Linked DNA regions of Homo sapiens. The protein of the gene in region 1 interacts with the protein of each later gene in a pairwise test. Each region holds a gene or a part of one and is shown in the gene's direction. Other genes may lie near its edges.

Region 1 (5,504 bases):
CTATTACAGCATCTTCCAGGTATTTAACTCCCCTTACTATCCCCATGAAAATGTAGACTCTGTCCCCAGTAATCATTGGAACAATCCAATTCAACTCAATGAAATAATACATATAAAAGTTCCTTGTAATTGTAAAGTGCTTTAAAAATATTAAATACTATTGACAACAATAATTCTTATTAAATAAATGAAATACCATATAACAATACCATATATTGATTACTTCCATATGCTGCAAAATAATTTTTTAAATGAGCATTAATATATTATGTGCTTGTAAAAGGCACACAAGGGATAAGAAAAGTGCATAAGTACATGTGTTTTCTCAGTGGAATTATTGTTCACATTTGGGAAGCTACTCTCTAAACTTGGGTAATTTCTCTACTCCTCTGGCTGTCTTATTTCTCCTTCGGTAATTATCTCTTCCCACTTCCTATTCCTTAGTAACACCCTCTCAATCAAATAGCAACCCTACTGCTCTGGAAGATTATCTCCCTATTTATCTGGATAAATACACGCTATTCTAAGAAATTATATTTATTTACTCATGGCTACTTTTCAACCTAGGTAAAGAGGCCCCACAACACAGGTAACATTTTCCACACTACAGCTGCATAACTCTGTTCTCTAATAATTGATGTCTTACCAGAAGAAGAAGGGATGGACCCAAGAGAGAAGTGGACACTTCTAAGAATACCCACAAATGACAAAGGTAGAATAAAAGGACACAAGGAAGGCCTAAGGAGAATGAAGGGAATGAGAGTAATATGGGGGAATTTTCTATGTAAAGGGAATTCTCTTTCCCAAATACTCTCTGTTAAGATTTCCAAGTATCTGTCTTGTGGGTACACCAGGATAGCAGAGGGAAGGGACTAATGCCACGGTGCTACTCCACCTTAACTGACCCTCCACGCTGAAGCCCCTCATCTCTATTTCAACTCTAGCATTCATTCTCCTTGCTACCAGGACAAAGGTCAAATCATACCTGGAGCTGGGAAACAAAGCCCTCTCAAATCTGAATATGTGTTTCACGAGGAGAGAGAGAGCAGCAGAGGGGACCACGAGGAAGGCAGAGATTCCCTGACGACCTCATGCCTTTGTACACCACTCGCCTTTACTCTCTGGATTAAACAGCATTAGGGAGACAAGAGAGGAAACACATGTGGTGTCTGGAGACCTGTGCCTGCCTGTTCCAGTCCCACACCCAGTCATCTCACCACACCCTTCACCTCACTTTACCTTCTCCTCCAGCACAGGAACTAGGAACTACGGAGAGAGAAGCCAAGGGAGAGGAGGAGGAGGAAACTAACGATTCCCTGCCCACCCCCACACCCAGCACCACCAACAGGTGGGCAAGCTTGCCGAGAAAACGCAGAGGGCATCCTGTGAGCAGCAAACACATCTGAGCCTGGAAAAGACGCAGAGAAGTAAAAGATCAAAGGTGAGGTAGGGGACGTGGAGGAAAGTGGGAGAGACAAAAGGAAAACAAAAAGTGGGGGATCATGAGAAGCAGAGGCAGGAAATAACAGGGCTTCAGACTTGGGTGCAGAATGGAGGTGGAGGACACAGCACAGATGGCATAAGAATTAATATTTCCTTGGTTCCTCCCAGGGAGTCCTTTCTCAACTTTGTAAGGCGTGCACAGAGGTGGCAAGGAAGCACCTTGCTCCTCTTCCTGGTTCTAAGGAAAAGGTGACCTTGAGCCAGTGGGTGTCTTTCCCAGTGCCTGCCTCTAACCCTGTGCTTTCTCCATATCCTCCTCTGGTATCTGTGTTTATTCCGCGGTTTCCCCGCGGCTGCCCCCGGGAGACCGAAGAGGTGGCTGGGGCAGGCCGAAAGCAGAGGAAAGGTTGGGCAGTGTCACCCTTGCACACCCACAGGGTAGACGGATCGAGTTTCAGCTTAAACCGAGGGGTGTGGGGGAAGGGTGTTGGGTTCAGCTAGTCCACGTGGGTGCTGTCCTCCACTTGGTGCTGAAATCTGGGCGGCCACATCCCCGGGGCGGGAGGGGGCTACATCCCCGGCTTTAGACGCGCGAGTCTCAGGTCCCGCTAATTACCTGGCGGGTGCTGCCCACCCCTGCCCTCGCGCACCTAGCGCGGTGGCAGGCGGGAAGGCGGGGCCTGGGGGAGCCCCACCCCTGGAGACTGCGGCTGGGGCCTCCCTCTCCTCCGCCCGCCCGCCTGCCACTAGCTCATTGCGCCTCTCCTGCAGTCTGATTGGCACCGGCTCCCATTCCGGCTCCAGCCTCCAATCCGACCCCCATTTCGGCTGCAGCCTCGGACCTAGCTCCGGCCCTCGGTCTATCCGGTTGCATCCTCCCTCCCTGTTCCGGATCTTATCTTGCGCCAGCGCCTACTCCAGGATCCCGTAGCCAGACCTCAAGCCATGGCTGGTCCCTTCTCCCGTCTGCTGTCCGCCCGCCCGGGACTCAGGCTCCTGGCTTTGGCCGGAGCGGGGTCTCTAGCCGCTGGGTTTCTGCTCCGACCGGAACCTGTACGAGCTGCCAGTGAACGACGGAGGCTGTATCCCCCGAGGTAACAGTGCCTGAGGCGCGGGAGGAGGCGGGGGCAGGAGGTGATGGGAACGAAGGTGCGGGTAGAAGTGAGAATCCGGGCAACAGAGAAGGGCTATAATCACGAAGGCCCTGGAGCTGGAGGGCTGTGCAGTCTGCAGACCTCAGTGGGGTGGGGGTGGGGGCCAAAACCATAAAGCAAGAACATTCCTGGGGACCTGCCAAGACCAGCTCTGGCCCTACGAGTTCTAGCTGCACTGGCTGCCCAAATCCCTAATTGTAAAGCCAGGAACTATCCTTTTCGCTCCCCTCCATCTCCTTCCCTCATTTCCTCAATTCCTCTCCTTAGGCTTTTCCCCTCCTCCATCCGTAGTGTTGTGTCATGGGAGGAAAGAACTGAGCAGATCTGAAGAAACTGAGCTGGCCAGCCAGAGGCAACTAGAACTATTAGGAAAGCATAGACTCTGAAAGTCCCTAAAGAGATTACCAAGGTTTACCCTCTTTCTAATTCCCCCTCCTCCCGCGGAGCAAAGCCAGACATGGCCAACTGGACAGCTCCCAGGTAACTGCACTAGGTCTAGGCGTCTGTGCCCTCCCTCCATGGTTACTGGGTACCCCCTCCCCAGCGCTGAGTACCCAGACCTCCGAAAGCACAACAACTGCATGGCCAGTCACCTGACCCCAGCAGTCTATGCACGGCTCTGCGACAAGACCACACCCACTGGTTGGACGCTAGATCAGTGTATCCAGACTGGCGTGGACAACCCTGGCCACCCCTTCATCAAGACTGTGGGCATGGTGGCTGGAGATGAGGAGACCTATGAGGTAGGGGGTCCCCAGAGTCTCCCTGATGATCCAATTCATCTTCCCAGTAATCCCAGCTCCTTTCCCCTAAAGACCTCTCACTTTCCCCCAAGACTCTGAGCCCCCCATACTTAAGTTTTCTGAACCAGTGAAATCAATGCACAATTGAAGTCTGGGGAGGGATTCCCTCTCCTTAACCATCTCTCCCTCTTAACTCCCCTTAGGTATTTGCTGACCTGTTTGACCCTGTGATCCAAGAGCGACACAATGGATATGACCCCCGGACAATGAAGCACACCACGGATCTAGATGCCAGTAAAGTGAGTTCAAATATCCCACTTCTGATTTGCATTGCCTGTGTACAACACTCTGTATCTCCAACCCCTTCACCTTATTTCCTGACTCATGGTCATTATACAGCTGAGCTTTTAATCTTAATGTAAGGAAAGAATCATATCTTAAGGGGCAGCATATATGGAGATGGAAGGATAGATAAGAATGACCATGACCCAAGGTGGGTGGTTTGGGGAAAGGTCTGCAATGCCCCCTTCAATTCCAGTGCTTTCCCAAAGGGCCTCTTCTTCCAATGCATGCAGGAAGAATGCACAAAGAGTCCTCTAATGCCTAAGGAAGGTCTCTCCTTTCCCAGGGGCCCTCAGTTCCCACCGTGTTTCTGTGACTTACATTCATTTCCCTTATCTCCCAGATCCGTTCTGGCTACTTTGATGAGAGGTATGTATTGTCCTCTAGAGTCAGAACTGGCCGAAGCATCCGAGGACTCAGTCTGCCTCCAGCTTGCACTCGAGCAGAGCGACGAGAGGTGGAACGTGTTGTGGTGGATGCACTGAGTGGCCTGAAGGGTGACCTGGCTGGACGTTACTATAGGCTCAGTGAGATGACAGAGGCTGAACAGCAGCAGCTTATTGATGTGAGGGCCTTAAGAGGGTGCTGGTTGGTGGGAGCAGATGGGGAAGGCTGGGCCAGATGAGACATGGGCTCTGAAAGGCCCAGGGGCCACCATGAAGATTCTTAACCCAAGTCCCGTTACTCTTCCCAGGACCACTTTCTGTTTGATAAGCCTGTGTCCCCGTTGCTGACTGCAGCAGGAATGGCTCGAGACTGGCCAGATGCTCGTGGAATTTGGTATGAAGCTGCTCATTACCTCTTTTGTCTTCATGCCCTCATAAATGCTTTTTTTCCCTCTATCTCTCCCAATTCTTGCCTTGCCTCTTGATCACTGTCCCTCTCCGGCCCTCAGGCACAACAATGAGAAGAGCTTCCTGATCTGGGTGAATGAGGAGGATCATACACGGGTGATCTCCATGGAGAAGGGTGGTAACATGAAGAGAGTGTTTGAAAGATTCTGCCGAGGCCTCAAAGAGGTTAGAGAAGACTATGTAGGGGAGCTAGGTGGGAGGACATAAGGAAAACCAAAGAGTAGCATAAATAGATTATGTAATTTACCAACCAACCCAGGACATGTCTTATAGTAAAAAGGACTATCTAGGACTCACTCCAGGACTAAAGGTGTAAACCAGCTGGGACCATACTGGGAAAACCAGGACATGTGGTCACACTAAGATTAGGAAAAGAAAGAGTGTCAGGAATCTTAGGAAGTGAACAAGGCTGTTGACAGAGAGTGCAAAGAAGGAATAAATGAGATGGCACGTCAGTGCCTGGGATGTGTGCAGTGGGATGGTGAGGTGTGCAGATAAGGAAAACATTCGAGCTTAGATTGATGTTGGCGGGGAGAGGTTGCTGTGTTCATGACTCTAATATAACCACCCAGTTCTGAGACAAGGTAGGCCTTGACTCTGGATTCTATCATTCTTGTTAAAGTATCGGGTCTAGGCTTTAAGTTGAGAGTTCGGAGAGAGACTGGGGAAGGTGGAGGATAGAATGGTTCAAGTTCTAGAATATGTGGCTCTAGATGAGAGGTTGAACTGAATCATCAATCCTACATGGATTGGGTCTCCGTATTCAAGTCTACATTAGAAATCCCCATAAACTCAATTCAATTCTTACTGTATGTTCTCAAACATACAGTTCTATTTTAGGTTTGCAAAGAAAAAGAGCTCCTCTTTTAGATTCTGAGAAGTTTCTACTATTTTTGGCAAGTAATAGATAACATATTCTGACTATGAGTGGGTAGGGAAGTACCTTTAAATTATATGCCTCAGTTTCC
Region 2 (4,891 bases), on another chromosome or scaffold:
TTTCCAGCTCCTGTCCCAGGCTCACAGGCATCTCAGTGGCTTACTGTGTCACCTGCGCCCTAGGTTGGTTGTCTAGACCCCACACCTCTGTTGTCCTAAGGCTGGGGACCCTCACGGTCCCAGTGCTGCCTCCTTCCACACTCCCAGGCCCTGTGCCACTGGCACGTCTGTCCGCAGGTCCCCTTCCCACAGCCCCACCTAGACCGAAAGGTCTGTGTCTCTGTGAGGAAGTGAATACCGAGTCAGAGCAAATCCTGGGTTACAGCGCCGACCCCTCTGAAGCTCACTTTTGTGATTTTGGTTTCCTCACCATTGTACTTGACAGACCTTAGTTGCCACATCTACTCCGTGGGGGTTATGGCCCATTAGAGCTATGAGGCTGAATGAGGCAGTTCATAGGGAAGGCTGCTTGTGGCCCTGGCTTCTAGAAAGGTGTGATTTGCAGGGGCTGCTAGGAGCCCTCCCTGCCCTCTCTTCCCTTTCTTTTGGTCTAGGGCTGGCTTTTATCTTCAGTTCTCGTTGAGTCTCTTTTCAAATGCAGATGCCTCAGGCTGCCAGCTTCTTTCATTTAGGCATCTGGGCCTTTGACACCTTGCTGTGAGTTAGTTTATTCGATTTATTTTGAAGCCAGGTGGCAAGGGGAAAGGAAATTGAAGAGGGAGATGCAACGCTTCCCCTGGTTTCTGGGGAGAGGCTTCCCCAATTCTCCAGCCCCTGACAGACATTGCGTGAGAGCTCATGGTTAGCGGGCCAGTCCCTGGTGTGGTCCACGCGTATCTCCTGTCCCGGGCTGGAAGCATGATGTGTGCAAATGTCCAAATCACGGGGTCTTCCCTCCCTCACAGGGCTTTAGCCAGGCAGCTGTTACTGAGGTAAATAATGATTTGTGTTTGTAGATAAAAAATAGTGGAATAGTTTCAATTTCATATGGTTCTGCTGCTGGGTGTTATGCAGGGGGAATCTGAGGAGCACTGAGATCACTGGGAAAGAGGCCGGGTGCGTGGCTCACGCCTGTCATCCCAGCACTTCGGGAGGCCGAGGCAGAATGAAGAATCTCATGCCAGGGGCCAGAAAGGAGGCTGAGACCAGAGTGTGAGTAGGAGTCAGCCCCCTCAGAGGTGGGACCAGAGAGGAGGCTCCTTAGGAAGCCATAGTGAGGAGGACATGTGGGACAGGCTCAAGGATTGACAAAAGAACCAGTAAAAAAGAATAGAATCTCAAAAAAAAAAAAAAAAAAAAAAAAAAAAGGCCAGGCGCAGTGGCTCATGCCTGTAATTCTAGCACTTTGGGAGGCCAAGGTGGGTGGATCACTTGAGGTCAGGAGTTCAAGAATAGCCTGGCCGACATGGTGAAACCGTGTCTCTACTGAAAATACAAAAAATTAGCCAGGCGTGGTGGCACACACCTGTAATCCCAGCTACCCGGGAGGCTGAGGCAGGAGAATGGCACGAACCCAGGAGGTAGAGCTTGCAGTGAGCTGAGATTGCGCCACTGCACTGCAGCCCGGGCAACAGAGCAACACTCCATCTCGGGAAAAAAAAAAACAATAGATAAAGAAAAATAAATAAAAAAAGAAAAGAGATGGCTCAGAGATCCCTTGTAGACTTCCCGGGTACCCATGTGGTAACGTTGCACCTGTCAATGGAGTACAGCAGTTCAAGGGGATGTTGACACCAATGTGCTCCATTGACCTTATTCAGATTTCACAGCTTTCCATGTGTCTACCTGTGTGTGTGTGGTTTAGTTCTGCGCATCTGTCACTGTAGGGTTTGTGTGAGCCCATGGCCAAGATGCAGCACAGCCACCATAGGGACCTCTTGAGCTGCCCTCTTGCAGCCACAGCCACCTCCCTTTCCCAGCCTGAACCCCTGAGAGCCACTGGTATGTTCTCCATCTGTATGGTTTCACCATTACGAGAATGCTCCATAAATGGAGTGCTGCAGGGTGTGGGCGTTGAGGTCGGCGTGATGTCCTGAGGTCCATCCAGTTGTGTGCACTACTAGTGTGTTCCTTTGACTGGAGGAAACGTCTATGGTATGGATGGACGGACCATCATGTTTCACCTGTTACAAGACATTTGGTTTTTTCCCCCAGTTTTTTGCTATTATGAATAAAGTTGCCATGAACATTTATGTAGTTTTTTGTGTGACTTAATTTTTTTTATTTTTTGAGACAGAGCCTCACACTGTTGCCAGGTTGGAGTGCAGTGGTGTGATCTCGCGCCACCACACCTGGCTAATTTTTGTATTTGTAGTACAGATGGGGTTTTGCCATGTTAGCCAGGCTGGTCTTGAACTCCTGACCTCATGTGATCCCGCCTGCCCCAGCCTCCGAAAGTGCTGGGATTACAGGCGTGAGCCACCACGCCTGACTTAAATTTTCATTTCTCTGGGATAAAGGCCCGTGAGCGCAGCTGCTGGGTGGTTTGGGAGTTGCATGTTGAGCTGTTTTGGTTTAAGAAACTTCCACACTGCTCTCCAGAGTGGTGGCTGTTTTATTTCACAGGTTTTCATCAGCTCCTGTGAGATTCCTTTGTCCTCACATCCTTGCCGTTTGGATTCGTGGGCAGCGGTATCTCGCTGTGGCTCTAATTTGCATTTTACGAATGGCGGGTGATGTTGAGCATCTTGTCACGGACGCATTTGCCATCTGTGTATCCTCTTCAGTGAGGTGTGTCTTTGCATCCTCTGCCCATTTTCTAATTGGATCGTTTCATTTTTACTGCTGATTTTTTGAGACTCGTGTGTTCTTGACAGCAGTCCTTTGTTCTGTGTGTGGTCTGTGGATATTTACTCACTCAGTAGCTGTCTTTTCATCCTCCTCTCAGGGTTTTTAGCAAGGCAAAAGTTTTTAATCTTGTCAAGGTCCAGTTTTTCCGTTTTCCGTTTTATAGACTGTGCTTTTGCTTTTGGTGTCACCACTCTGTAGAAGTGCTATTATTTTACCTTTACGTTAGATTTGCATTTCACCTGGGGTGGGGGTCAAGATTCTTTTCTTTTCTTCTGTTTTTTTGTTTTTTGATTATTTTCTGTCACCCAGTCTGGAGTGCAGTGGTGTGATCTCGGCTCACTGCAACCTCCACCTCCCAGATTCAAGCGATTCTCCTACCTCAGCCTTCAGAGTAGCTGGGACTACAGGTGTGTGGCACCACAACCGGCTAATTTTTTGTATTTCTAGTAGAGACGGGGTTTCACCCTGTTGGTCTCGAACTCCTGATCTCAAGCAATCCTTCCCCCTCAGCCTCCCGAAGTGCTGGGATTACAGGCGTAAGTCACTGCGCCTGGCCCCAGCACCATTTATTGAAGGCTTTTCCACTCCCAGCAGTGTCATAAATTGCATGTCTACACATGTGTAGGTTTATTTCTGTTTTGTTTTGGGGACAAAACAAAACAGTCAGAGACAGAGTCTTTCTCTGTCCCCCAGGCTGGAGTGCAGTGTTGATTTCGGCTCACTGCAACCTCTGCCTCCCAGGCTCAAGTGATCTTCCCACCTCAGCCTCCCAAGTAGCTGGAACTGCAGGGGTGCACCACCATGCCTGGCTAATTTTTTAAATTTTGTAGAGATGAGAGTCTCCCTGTTTTGCCTAGGCTGGCCTTGAATCCCTGGGCTCAAGTGATCCTCCTGCCTCGGCCTCCCAAATTGCTGGGATTGCAGGTGTGAGCTGCCTCATCTGGCAATTTTCTGGACTCAACCGTATTCCATTGGTTTATTTCTCTATGCCTAAGCCAGTAACTTAGGTCTTACTTACCAAACTGTATATAATAAGTCTTGACATCTAATAGTGTAAGTACTTCAAATTTGTTCTCTTTCAGGCTTATCCCTAGTGTTCTTGGCCTTTTGTGTTTCCATATAAGTGGAGCATTAGCTTGTGAGTCTCACACTGTTGGGGTTTTGATTGGGACTACGTCAAATCTTGGATGAATTTGGGGAGAAATGACATCTTTTCAGTTCTGGGTTTTGCAACATATAACGAGATGTCTCCTCCTATATCTTCCCATAAAGATATGGTTGTGGTTTACTCTGTACATCTTTTGTTAGGCTTATTCCGAGGCATTGAGGCTTTTGGGTGCTATTCTGTTGTTCAGTTCTAAGTAGGAGTGGACATCCTCCCCTGACAGCCTCTGTCTTTCCAGGGAATTTGCTTTGGGAGGGCAGGAGAGAAAAGGCAAGGGAAGCTCTTTCCAGGGGATATGCTTTGGGAGGGCAGGAGAGAAAAGGCAAGGGAAGCTCTTTCCAGGGGATATGCTTTGGGAGGGCAGGAGAGAAAAGGCAAGGGAAGCTCTTTCCAGGGAATTTGCTTTGTCTGGGAGGGCAGGAGAGAAAAGGCAAGGGAAGCAGATTTCTGCAAGCGTCAGAGCCCTTGAGGGAGTGGCTCTGCTATGTTCAGAGTCACTGGGGCTGTGGGAGCAGGAGGGCATGGGGCAAGGTGAGGGCATGGCAGCGAGGGAGGCACTGGAGTGTTGGAGTCAGGGCTTGTAGTAGCGAGCCAGGCAGAGAGGAGGCGATGGGCAGAGAGTGGGATGTTGAATGGAGGTGACAGGCATGGGCTGCAGTTACTGGTGGTGATGGAGCACAGCTGGCCAGAAGATAAGGACACTGGTGTAGAGAAGAGGTCAAGGCTCAGAGGGGATAGGCAGTCCACAAAGGTTTGTCCACAAGAACATTAGACCACCAGGAATTTGGGCAACGATGGGCGGGGGTGAAGCCACAGTGAGGGCTGGTGCTGGGTGGTTGGTGCCTGATGATGTGTGCTCCAGCTGGGATGCTCAGGGAGAGGATGGGAGGGGGACTCCAGGCCTCAGCCAGGAGCACAGGGGTTGGGGAAAGAGGGCCCTCAGTAGGGAGGACATGGTGTCGCTGGGGACAGAGCCCCAGGGGAGGGTTTCAGGAT
Region 3 (4,891 bases), on another chromosome or scaffold:
CAAATTGACTTAATTTTATTGGAGAATAAGAAAAAAAAGTTTGGTTAATCAGGATTGTATTTATACTGACACATTTAAAAGATTTAAAGATAAATGTTATGTACTTCCATGTCCTAGAACCTATAATGTGATTTGTTTATGGTTCTTCTTTGCCTTATTGATATGTGTATTGAGACCCAGGTTTTAAAATTTAAAAATGTTTTGTTATGAAATAGTCTTAATCTAAATGTCTTTAAATGGTTTGGGGCCTATAAGGGTGACTGAGTACTTCTATTTGCTCTTCCAAAGAAACACAACTTGGAAATTAGTATATAAATTTTCAAACCACAATCCTAACAAAATGCATTGGCAAATAAGATACTCTATTGCTCCTGGTAGCAACATGCATTACAAAAATAAGAGCAAGCTTCTTAAAAGCAGAGTTGCTGGCTAGTCAACTTTAAAATTTTAGACACTCTGTTAAGGTTAGTATAATTTATTTAACTATTTGATATCGAAAAATAATCACATATTGGAAGTAGGATATTCTTGGAGGCAGGTTTATGTAATGAGAAAAAACGCAAGGTAGAACCAGACTTACTTGGTTCCAGTTCCAGCCCTACTATCTAATATCTGTGTTACTTTGAGCAAGTCACCAGACCTTCCAGTTCCTTTGTTTCTTCATCCATAAAATGAAGATAATAAGAGTACTTACCTCATAGGGTTGCTATGAGTTACTTTATGTCAACTGCATACTACAGCATATAATAGATATTAGCAATTATTTTAAGCTCTTCTGACACTTGGAACCAAACTCTTGACATTTGTCTTTCAAAAATTGCTTTTGTGCAGGACCAACATCCAACAGGGGTCTTTGAATTCAGGTACACCTTGAGACTCAAGATCATAGGCTACATTTGGTACCAATTTACCAAAAAGGTTACTGGACAGACCATATATCTTTCCAAGCAGCATCAGGTTTTTCTCTCAGCAGGAGTCTCAGAAGAAGCAGTTGGCATGGCAGTTCACACTGCCCTGTGATTGGGAAGCTGCTTTCCCAGGTGACAGACCAGGTGCAAGAAAGTGAGATCCACACCAGTGGAAGTGAGGTTCACGTAGGCTTAGAATCCTCATGTAAGGCGTATGTCTGGTAACAGTCTTGAATCCAAACTATAGGGAGTTAGACTAGTGTCCTACGAGTAGAAAGCATTCTAGTGTTTTGACACAATCTCTGTGAGAAACTTCCAAAAGCAAGAGAAGGAATATGTACCATGTCTTTTTGAATATTCCTCTTAGCTATCACTAATTACAATAGGGTTTTGGCAAGGGTTTGCTAGCAGACATTCCAAATTGACATAGTTGTCAAGGATTTATAGGTATTTAGTGTTTTTGAGAAAAGATCCAGGTATTCTATACAAACTACTTACATGGACGAAATGTTAACATTTTATGAGGAAACAGAAAATGTATTTTATTGTTGCTAAACTCCACCTTTTTGTAGTAAATGGCTATTGATATGTTTTTAAGAGCAAGTCCTTTATCCGTAAACATTTGTAGAATTGGTCCAATTTGTACCGTTGTTAAACTGAAACCATATAATACCACAAAGCACAGAAGAGACACTATAATAAAAGTAAGATTTATACAGGATAATATTTAACAGGATTCTATTTAAATTGGCGTATTAGGGTTATTTGCAAAACACATTACATAATTAGCATAAGAGTTAATTGAACATAATCACTTATCCATCTAGATACAAAAAAATGAGGCAGAACTTATTGATTTATGTTTGGGCATAGACAATATTGAGCAGCTTATTGTGACATTAATAGACTATCAGGCTCAGTTATTTTTATTTTTATTATTTATTTATTTTTTTATATGGGGTTTCACTGTCACCCAGGCTGCGGTGCAGTGACGCCATCTTGGCTCACTGCAACCTTTGCCTCCTGGGCTCAAGTGATCCTCCCTCCTCAGCCTCCTGAGTAGCTGGGGCAACGGGCACATGCCACCATGCCCACGCTTGGCAATAATTAACAAAACCTCCTGGAATAATAGCTCTTTTTTCTCTTTTTTCCCTACAGTTGGACAGTGTCACATCCCTGATCCAAGCAGCCAAAAATTTAATGAATGCTGTAGTGCAAACAGTGAAAATGTCTTACATTGCCTCAACCAAGATCATCCGAATCCAGAGTCCTGCTGGGCCCCGGCACCCAGTTGTGATGTGGAGAATGAAGGCTCCTGCAAAAAAACCCTTGATTAAAAGAGAGAAGCCAGAGGAAACGTGTGCAGCTGTCAGACGAGGCTCAGCAAAGAAAAAAATCCATCCATTGCAAGTCATGAGTGAATTTAGAGGAAGACAAATCTACTGAAACCACTATTCTACATATAGTGCCTATATGACAAAATCCTGCCTAACCACACTGCTTTATTTTACACTTAAGAAGTTCTGTAATTTCACTAAGTTTTGGTGTTTAACTCACAAATAACATAAAATATTGGGCGCTAAATCAACAAAAGCAATATATATTTGGGATCATATCACTGTCATTTCTGTATGGTCAGCACCTAATAGTTAAGGAATATTTGCTTGTTGAATGAATGAAATTATCACGTGTCATTCAGCGTTTCCCATCATAGAGATTATCTACTATTCGTTACCAAATAAACACAGGAGAGGCCAGAGAGTCCTGTTTATCTGTAATACTTCATGTACACTTATCATCCTTATCTTGAATTAAAACACTAACATGAGCTCCTAACTTGGTTTTTTAATAGAAACAAAAGACTTTTATAAAATATTTTCCCATTTAATCTCCATGCTTTCTTTATCTGATCTAACCTGGCACCTAACCAGGCAGAAATGTATGATTCCTGCCATAGCAAAAAAACCACCTTTTAATCTCTAGATAGCTGTACTCATTGTCAACTTATTAGGCTAATATCCATTATAAACTAATCAAATTTGAATAGTTAGGCTACTTGCTGGATTTTGAAGGTCAACCTTGTTTATTAATAAAATGCTTTCTTAACATTATAAAGGTTACAATGAGTTCTGATGCCACATACTCACCTTTTGGGTTTCCAATGTGTTAGAGAGTTCTGTACTTTTGAGTGTTAGGCCTATCCGAATACATATGTGAAAGAAGAGTTATCACCCATTGGGAAAATGAGACAACAAACTATATCCCAAAGTGAGTTATATTAATAATAACAGAAGTGTAAGTTCTGTATGACCCTATTTTTACAAACATAAAAATACATTTTTATCAGCTTGCAATTGTAATTAAAAGGAAAATGGCAGTTTGAAAAATCTTTTGACGTTGAGTAAAATATAACTGCATGAACTGTACCATTGAACTATGAAGCAGTTAATGGCAATGAAGCTGGAGTGATTTTAATAACGTTCTTTTAAATAAAAGTCACTGGGGTCATTTTACAACTCCAGTCACTGTGTTCATTCCTAGTTGAGTTCATAATGGACTTCATAATAGTCTTAGAGTCTAGTGTACCTCTCTCTGTCATTCTCTCTCTCTTTTTCTCTCCCCTGATGACCTGCCTCTCTCTGTCTTTCAAAAATGTCCTTAACAGAAACTCTTTGGAGGCCATAAGTTTTGTTTTCATTTTTTCTCATTCATAGAGTTCTGATTCACAGACTTTAAAAAACATTTTCTATTCTACATTATCATAATAGTATTATATTGTACCTTTTTACTTCTAAAACATTGCCATTGATGAGAGGCGTCTCAGCAACGATGTAACCTTAGATTGATGAGAAAAAAATTTACACATACAATACCAGTTGATATTAGGAGAACCAGTTTGGGTAAAAGGATGCATGAAACATAGAAAAGCATAAAGATTGACAGTACGATATGTGTGGAATCTTAAGCATAATGGTATGGGAAAAGAAGGATCTATTTAATAGGTCATTATTAATTATGCAGGAAATGTTAAATTTCTTGTAATGAATTATTTCAATCTTCCAAGTAGCTGGATTGCCTGAGCTCAGTGTAAAACTTCCTAGGAGGTGAAGGCAATAAACTCCTCCCTGTTTTGCACCATAGACTGGCCTACAATAACTATTCTGAACAGAATGCACTGCCCAGAAGAAAAGGCAGTGAAGAAGGGAATTAGGGAATTCAGATGACTCTGTTTTTCAGAATTATCTAGATGATTGAGGCAAATAGAGATTTTCTTTTATTGAAATGCTGCCATCATTTTCTGCTCTAAGTGTAGATGTTGCACGAGTGACATCTGTGGTATATCCTTCTTCCAGATAGAAGTATAAATTTATAATTTAGTGGGGAGAGGAATTTTCTTTTAATCACCAAACTACCAGCTGTATAGAAAATTTTTTTGAAATCACCAAACTAGCAGTTGTGTATCTTAGCTCCTAAAGCCACATTCACAAGAATCATAAGCATCTCATTTAGAAAATCTAATGTCCACCGGACCCAACATCATCTTTCCACATGTTGGAGTTTAGAACATGCAGTATTGGACACCAAAAGAACAGAAATAACTTGAAATTATACAATTACCAAATAACCTCCATCTCTTTGATAAAAATGACTTTTTACCCAAAGTGAGATGTGAACAAGTTCTCCTCTTTAACCCAGGCAGATTTTCAGCTTAGCTCAAAGCAAACTATAATTAAATAAAACAATAAAAATTTTAACTCAATGAATATCCTAGGAGTTAATCTGCTGTGGTAATCGATAGTGACATAAAAACAAGATGCATAGAGCTGAAAAAGGCATCTGTCCACCTGAGTGAATTCCTGTAGTAGGCAGCATTTCAAGATTTAGTTTGATTCAAACCTGCTGATAAAACAAATGCTTATATGCAAGAAAAACTAGCAGCAAGATATGAATAAATCTCCCCATTATGTTAAAAACTAATCAGC
Region 4 (5,678 bases), on another chromosome or scaffold:
GGAGAAGGCAAAGAGGGAGCTGAGCAGCCCAAGATGGGGATAAACTGAGTCCCCCAAGGATAAAGAGGAGGATCCAGACCACTCAGGAGAGAGAGGAAGGGGTGATGGGGGAGGGGGCTGAGGAGGTGAGGGAGGGTGGGACCGTCTCCCCGACCCCAGCACAGCTGGCCCCCCAGGCCTGGTGGGGAAATGGGAGGGAGCTTGCCACTGGAGGGCCCTGGGGTGGGGGCTGAGCAGCGAGTCTCTCCCAGCCCCCAGGTCCTCACGCAGGAGGCAGCTGGGAACCACCCACGCTCATCTGGTGTCTCTCACGCCTCCACTGGGGGTCCCAACATCAGAGCCAAGGCACACAGTGAAGCCGGTGTTCCGGAGAGCCCAGCTGTCCCCACCCCACCCCGGCTCCTCAGTTCCTCCAGCCGAGACCTCCCCACCTGCCTCCAAGCAGGAGGGACTAAGGCTAGACTCTGAGGACTTGAGAGGCTCAGTCTGGGAGCCTGGAGGCGGAGCCCTGGGGTGCCAGGAGGGGCTGAGCTGCCGATGCTGAAGAAACTCTGGGCTGGGAAGGGCCCTCTGGGCAGATGGCAAATGCTGCCGGCTTTACCTGCGAAGTAAATCCAGAAACCAGACCCACCCCGGCCATCTCTCAGCCTGAAATGGCCCCTTCTCCCACCTTGCCCCCAACTCCTCAAAGTCTCTTCTTGACATAATAACCCAAGGAAGCTGTCCACATGGAGGTCACACCCTCTCACTCTGCTCAAAGCCCCCCAGGACTTCCCATCTCATCTGGAATAAAAAGCCTAAAGTCATTGTCATAGGCCCCAAGGCCCTGGATGGCCCCAATGGCAGTTACCATTCTAACTGCCACACCCAAATCCCAACGTTTAAAAACACATGTCTAATATCGACATGTATATTGTGTCCATTGTTTATTGTCTGCGCCTGTAGTCCCACTATCTAGACAGAACAATGCTGGCCGCAGAACTAGTGTTTTATATGTATTTGTGGAATGAATGGATGAGGGCGCACACACTGGAAAAATCACTTAACCCCTTTGAGCCCATTTCTTCATGGGGACAATAAGGACCAACCCCTAGAAATGGAAAAAGGACAAAATCTCAGCCCAGCATGCGGAGAATGTTGCTGAGGCTGGGGGCAGGAGGAGCTGGGCTAGGGGTCATCGACTCTGGAGAGGAGCTGTGCGGTCGGCAGGCAGTGGGTAGGTGCCACAGGATCCCCAGGCAGATGTTCTGCCCTCCTGTCATGGCCTGCACAATCAGAGGCTGGGGAGGGAGGAAGGGAGGGGGTTTCCTTGATTGGAAGGGGGAGTGGGAGGAGCAGCTGACACCAAAGTTGGGAGGTGGGATTAATTCTGAGAGGGGGGTCGGGGTGAGGTCTGGAGTGGTGGGTTTGACATGGGGGCCGGCTCGCCAAGGTGGAGGTGGGGAAGGGGGCGTGTCTGGTCCCCTACCCCGAAGACCTCAGTAGCTGGAGGAATGGGCGCTCCACGCTCCCAGCTCCGTTAGTTGGGAGTTGAGGCGCAGGAGCAGGGAGGGTGCCCAGGGTGCCAATTCGGCCCTCGAAGCGACGTGCGGCTCAGAGCCCAGGTGGGTATGGGGAAGGAAGCGGGGCGGAGTGGCCTGGGATCGCCCCCGGCTCAGGAGAGAGACCTCTTGGCACTACCGTGTCCCTCCATTCCGGCCACCAGAGCCGAGGTGCCGAGGAGAGGGGCGCCGCGATCCTCCTCCCCGGGCAGGGTGCTCCCTCGAGGGGGACCGGGGAACTGAGGGCGTCCCCTTCTCTCCGGGGCGGGGGTGGGGGGCGGAGCCCAGCGCGCCGCTCCCCAGCCCCCAGGGCTGGCGGGGACCCCCCCAGGGGAGGGGCTCCGGGTGAGCGCTGCGGGGCGTCTCCCTCGCAGTCCCGCCCGCCCCTCCTGCCGCCCCTGCCGCGCGCGCCGCAGCAGCGCCGCCTTCCCTGCGCAGTCGGTGTCTCCGCGTCGCTGGGTGAGTGGGGGCAGCTCCAGCCGGGGCCGGGGGATGAGGGCAGGGGGTTCCCGGAGCTGGGGGCCCACGTCCAGGGCTTCCCAACACCGCCGCTCCCGGGCTTCCCGGGAATCCTTGCCCCGGGTGGCGGGGGCGCTGGGGACTGGGAAGCGCGCGGTGCTCTCCAGGGTCCTGACCGCCGAGTGGCCGGCCCCTAGGAACCGCGTTCGACCGCCCTGGAGCGCCCCCTCCAGGAGGGGCCACGCGCCGGGCGCTGTCCTAGTGCTGAGCGGATGGAGGCGGGGGCTGGGGGACAGAGCTGAGGGAGGTTTGGAGCGGGTCCCCGGGGCTGGCTTCTCAGGTCGAGCTGAGGGGGTTCTTCCCATATGGGGGACTGGAGGTCTTTGCGGGCAGCTGAATCTTCTTGCAACCGGGAGGGGCAACTCCGAGGGTGGCAGGGCCCAGGGGGCACTGGAGGAGCTCTCTTGCTCCGCGCATCTCTCTGCCCCCACCCCGGTGACCCAGTTCCTTGGACCTTGAGGAGGGCAGTGCGGGACATGCCCCAGCCCTTCTCATTTCCTTAGCCCTTTCCCACTCACTTGTCCGGTGGGTCCTTAGCCTGGGCCATAAGAGGCTGGTCTAGAAAGGAGGGGCACCAACTTACAGAAACATGCATGTGACACACCGCCGAGGACACACACGGGTCCTCCAAATGGCCACACGGGCTCATTCCCTCACGCTGTGACGGGTGCATACCTGATCACATGCACATCTGAGGCACATGCAGGGACATAGATGGAAAGACACGGCAGGCAAATGCAATGCAAAAACCAGCGGCACACATCATGCATGAGCACATGCACTCACAACACACCCATTCACATGTGTGCAGAGCTTCATGCACATGTATGCACAAGGAGGCCCCTCCTTGCCCTAAGTGGGTGGGGGTCACCTGCACACACGCCTACATCCTTGTGCAGAACTGGCTGGCTGTTTCCTCTTCATTGCCTTCTACTCAGCCTCCACAATCTAACCTGCACTCAGGGGACCTTTCAGGACTAGATGAAGGGTAAGTGTTGGGGAGGCTTGGATGGGCTTGGTGGGGGGTCTCCTTGGAAAAGGGGCCCCGAGCAGGTCTGGGAAGGTTTGCAGCTCCCTCTCCTGGGACCTGGCAGCACCCCTGGGAAAACAGAAGGAAAACAAAGAAAAATGGCAAGGGTGCCTGAAGGTCCCACGTGCAGCTGGCCATGTGAGAGGTGTCGGCATGCGAGTTGGCGTGTGATGGCATGTGTGAGACATGTGGGGTCGTGGGCTGGTGTGTCTTGATGCACAGGGTATGGGAGTTGTGCGTGGTGCCATGTGTCGATTCGTGTGAGTTGTGGAGCAGAGGGAATGTCGTCATGTGTGGAGGCATGCTGACCCATGGGTGGGCGTGGGCTGGTACGTGAGTGGCATGGGATCCAGGGTGTGGATCTGGTGAGCTATGAAGCATACAGTTATCGGTATACATTCATTTGCACAGTTTTTGCATGAGTTTTGTGGCACCTGGGTATATGTAAGTCATTTTTATTTATTTAACATTTATGTAGCACTTATCTATGCAGCCATGGTTCTAAGTGCTTCACACATATTAACTAATTTAATCCCCAAAACAATCCTCTTAGGTAAGTACTGTTATTACCCCACTTTAAAGATAAGGCAGAGAGAGTTTAAGGAACTTGCCCAAGGTCACATAGCTGGTAAGAGGAGGAGCTGGGATTCAAACCTAGGTGATCTGACTCTGGAGCCCACAGTAACACCTCCCTCTGCTGCCTCTTGTTGGGCACACCTGTCAGAGGGAGAACAGGGCAGTGTCTGGGCTGCGGGTATATTCAGTGCTGAGCAGGCACATGTGAGGCAATGAGAAGGCAGTGGGTAGGACGGAGGAGGATCAGAAGGTTTTTCTGCACCTCTGTGGGCAACTCTAGGAGTCAGCCTCATAATGCCATGGCTGTGTGACCTGAAGCAGCCACCTCACGTCTGTAAGCCTGCCTTCTCATCTGTAAAATGGGGCAAATCCCCATACAACCTGTTGCGAAAGTGAATTGGTGTGCATTTGTGAAGGCTTAGTGGCTGGCACCTAGAAGGGCCTCAGTAAATGTGAACCACCCTTCCCTTCCTCCCTCTCCCAGGAAAGCGTATGGTCCAGGGAGATGGTGTGGAGCATGGCATAGATACAGGATGCCTGGGTCTAGGCTGTGTGACCTTGGGCCAGTTCCTCTCTTTCACTGGGCCAAACAAGAGGCAGGGATGGCTGTTGGCAGGGGGGCCCATCTGGAGCAGTGTCTAGTAGCCAGGAGGGCCTGATCACTCCTCTCTGCCCTTGACCCCCTTGGGGACCCAGGTGGGACTTGGCTCGGCGGCCATGGGCAAGCAGAACAGCAAGCTGCGGCCCGAGATGTTGCAGGACCTGCGAGAGAACACAGAGTTCTCAGAGCTGGAGCTGCAGGAGTGGTACAAGGGCTTCCTCAAGGACTGCCCCACAGGAATCCTCAATGTGGATGAGTTCAAGAAGATCTACGCCAACTTCTTTCCCTATGGTGACGCCTCCAAGTTTGCCGAGCACGTCTTCCGCACCTTTGACACCAACAGCGATGGCACCATAGACTTTCGGGAGTTCATCATTGCGCTGAGCGTGACCTCGCGCGGCCGCCTGGAGCAGAAGCTCATGTGGGCCTTCAGCATGTATGACCTGGACGGCAACGGCTACATCAGCCGGGAGGAGATGCTGGAGATCGTGCAGGTGGGCCCCTGGGCCCCTCAGAATGCCAGGCACAGGGCCCGGCAGCTTGCACCCACCACCCCTTTTGATCCTCTCAGCAGACCTCGTAGGCATGTGGTGGCAGGGGATATTCTTGCAATCCCATTTTAAAAATTGTTTTTAGGAAATATTTCCCATTTAAAGAAAAGTTGAGAAAACTCCCCTATACCCTCTACCCAGATTCACCAATTAACATTTTCCCACAGTTGCTTCATCATTATCAGTGTGTGTGTGCGTGTGTGCACACTAGTGTGTAACATTTTCTTGCTGTTCTGAACATTGGCCCTTTACCCCTGGATACATTAGGATATATTTCCTAAAAATAAGCACATTCTCTTACATAACCCATAATATGATTACCAAAGCCAGGATATTTAACATAGAAACAATGCTATTATCTAATCTACCAACCATATTCCAATTTTGCCAACTGTCTCCATAATGTTCTTTATAGCATTTTTGGCCCTGACCTGGGGTCATGCATTGCATCTAGTTCTCATGTCTCTTTAGCCCCCTTTAATCTGGAATAGCTCCTCATCCTTTCTTTATCTTTTATGAATTGACATTTCTGCAGAGCACAGTCCAGCTATGTCTAGTTGATCCTCATTTACACCAGAGGAAACGGATGCTCAGAGAGATAAAGGCACTTGCTTGAGGCCACACAGCCTGTGTGAGTGGGCCATCTGGCACCACTGTCTACATTCCATCTGGATACCCAGCCATCTTCTAACTAATTGATTGAGGGCCCACTATGAGCCTAGCATTGAGTGAGGTGCTCATGAGCTCAGTGCGTGCTTACAACAACCCCATGAGGCTCAGAGAGGTGAGGTGATGTGCCCAAAATCACACAGCACATAAGTGGAGAAAAGCTCTGGCTGGCCACTACTTAGAGCTGTCTA

What was found.
Region 2: the proteins of CKMT1B (region 1) and PPP1R16A interact in binary tests that used the Homo sapiens proteins (3 or more experiments, as listed by UniProt).
Region 3: the proteins of CKMT1B (region 1) and CTNNA3 interact in binary tests that used the Homo sapiens proteins (3 or more experiments, as listed by UniProt).
Region 4: the proteins of CKMT1B (region 1) and HPCA interact in binary tests that used the Homo sapiens proteins (3 or more experiments, as listed by UniProt).

What each region holds. Positions count from the first base shown.
Region 1 is NC_000015.10:43,591,831-43,597,334, forward strand, and holds the start of CKMT1B (creatine kinase U-type, mitochondrial precursor), read left to right. Parts: upstream 1-2,196; 5' UTR 2,197-2,388; coding exon 2,389-2,537; intron 2,538-2,864; exon of another isoform or gene 2,865-3,048; coding exon of another isoform or gene 3,049-3,141; coding exon 3,142-3,340; intron 3,341-3,543; coding exon 3,544-3,639; intron 3,640-4,025; coding exon 4,026-4,247; exon of another isoform or gene 4,248-4,248; intron 4,249-4,376; coding exon 4,377-4,462; intron 4,463-4,577; coding exon 4,578-4,701; intron 4,702-5,504. UniProt on the Homo sapiens protein: Reversibly catalyzes the transfer of phosphate between ATP and various phosphogens (e.g. creatine phosphate).
Region 2 is NC_000008.11:144,483,994-144,488,884, forward strand, and holds part of PPP1R16A (protein phosphatase 1 regulatory subunit 16A), read left to right. Parts: intron 1-4,891. UniProt on the Homo sapiens protein: Inhibits protein phosphatase 1 activity toward phosphorylase, myosin light chain and myosin substrates.
Region 3 is NC_000010.11:65,917,793-65,922,683, reverse strand, and holds part of CTNNA3 (catenin alpha-3), read left to right. Parts: intron 1-2,066; coding exon 2,067-2,354; 3' UTR 2,355-4,891. UniProt on the Homo sapiens protein: May be involved in formation of stretch-resistant cell-cell adhesion complexes.
Region 4 is NC_000001.11:32,884,516-32,890,193, forward strand, and holds the start of HPCA (neuron-specific calcium-binding protein hippocalcin), read left to right. Parts: upstream 1-1,975; 5' UTR 1,976-2,000; intron 2,001-2,982; exon of another isoform or gene 2,983-3,048; intron 3,049-4,362; 5' UTR 4,363-4,383; coding exon 4,384-4,761; intron 4,762-5,678. UniProt on the Homo sapiens protein: Calcium-binding protein that may play a role in the regulation of voltage-dependent calcium channels. May also play a role in cyclic-nucleotide-mediated signaling through the regulation of adenylate and guanylate cyclases.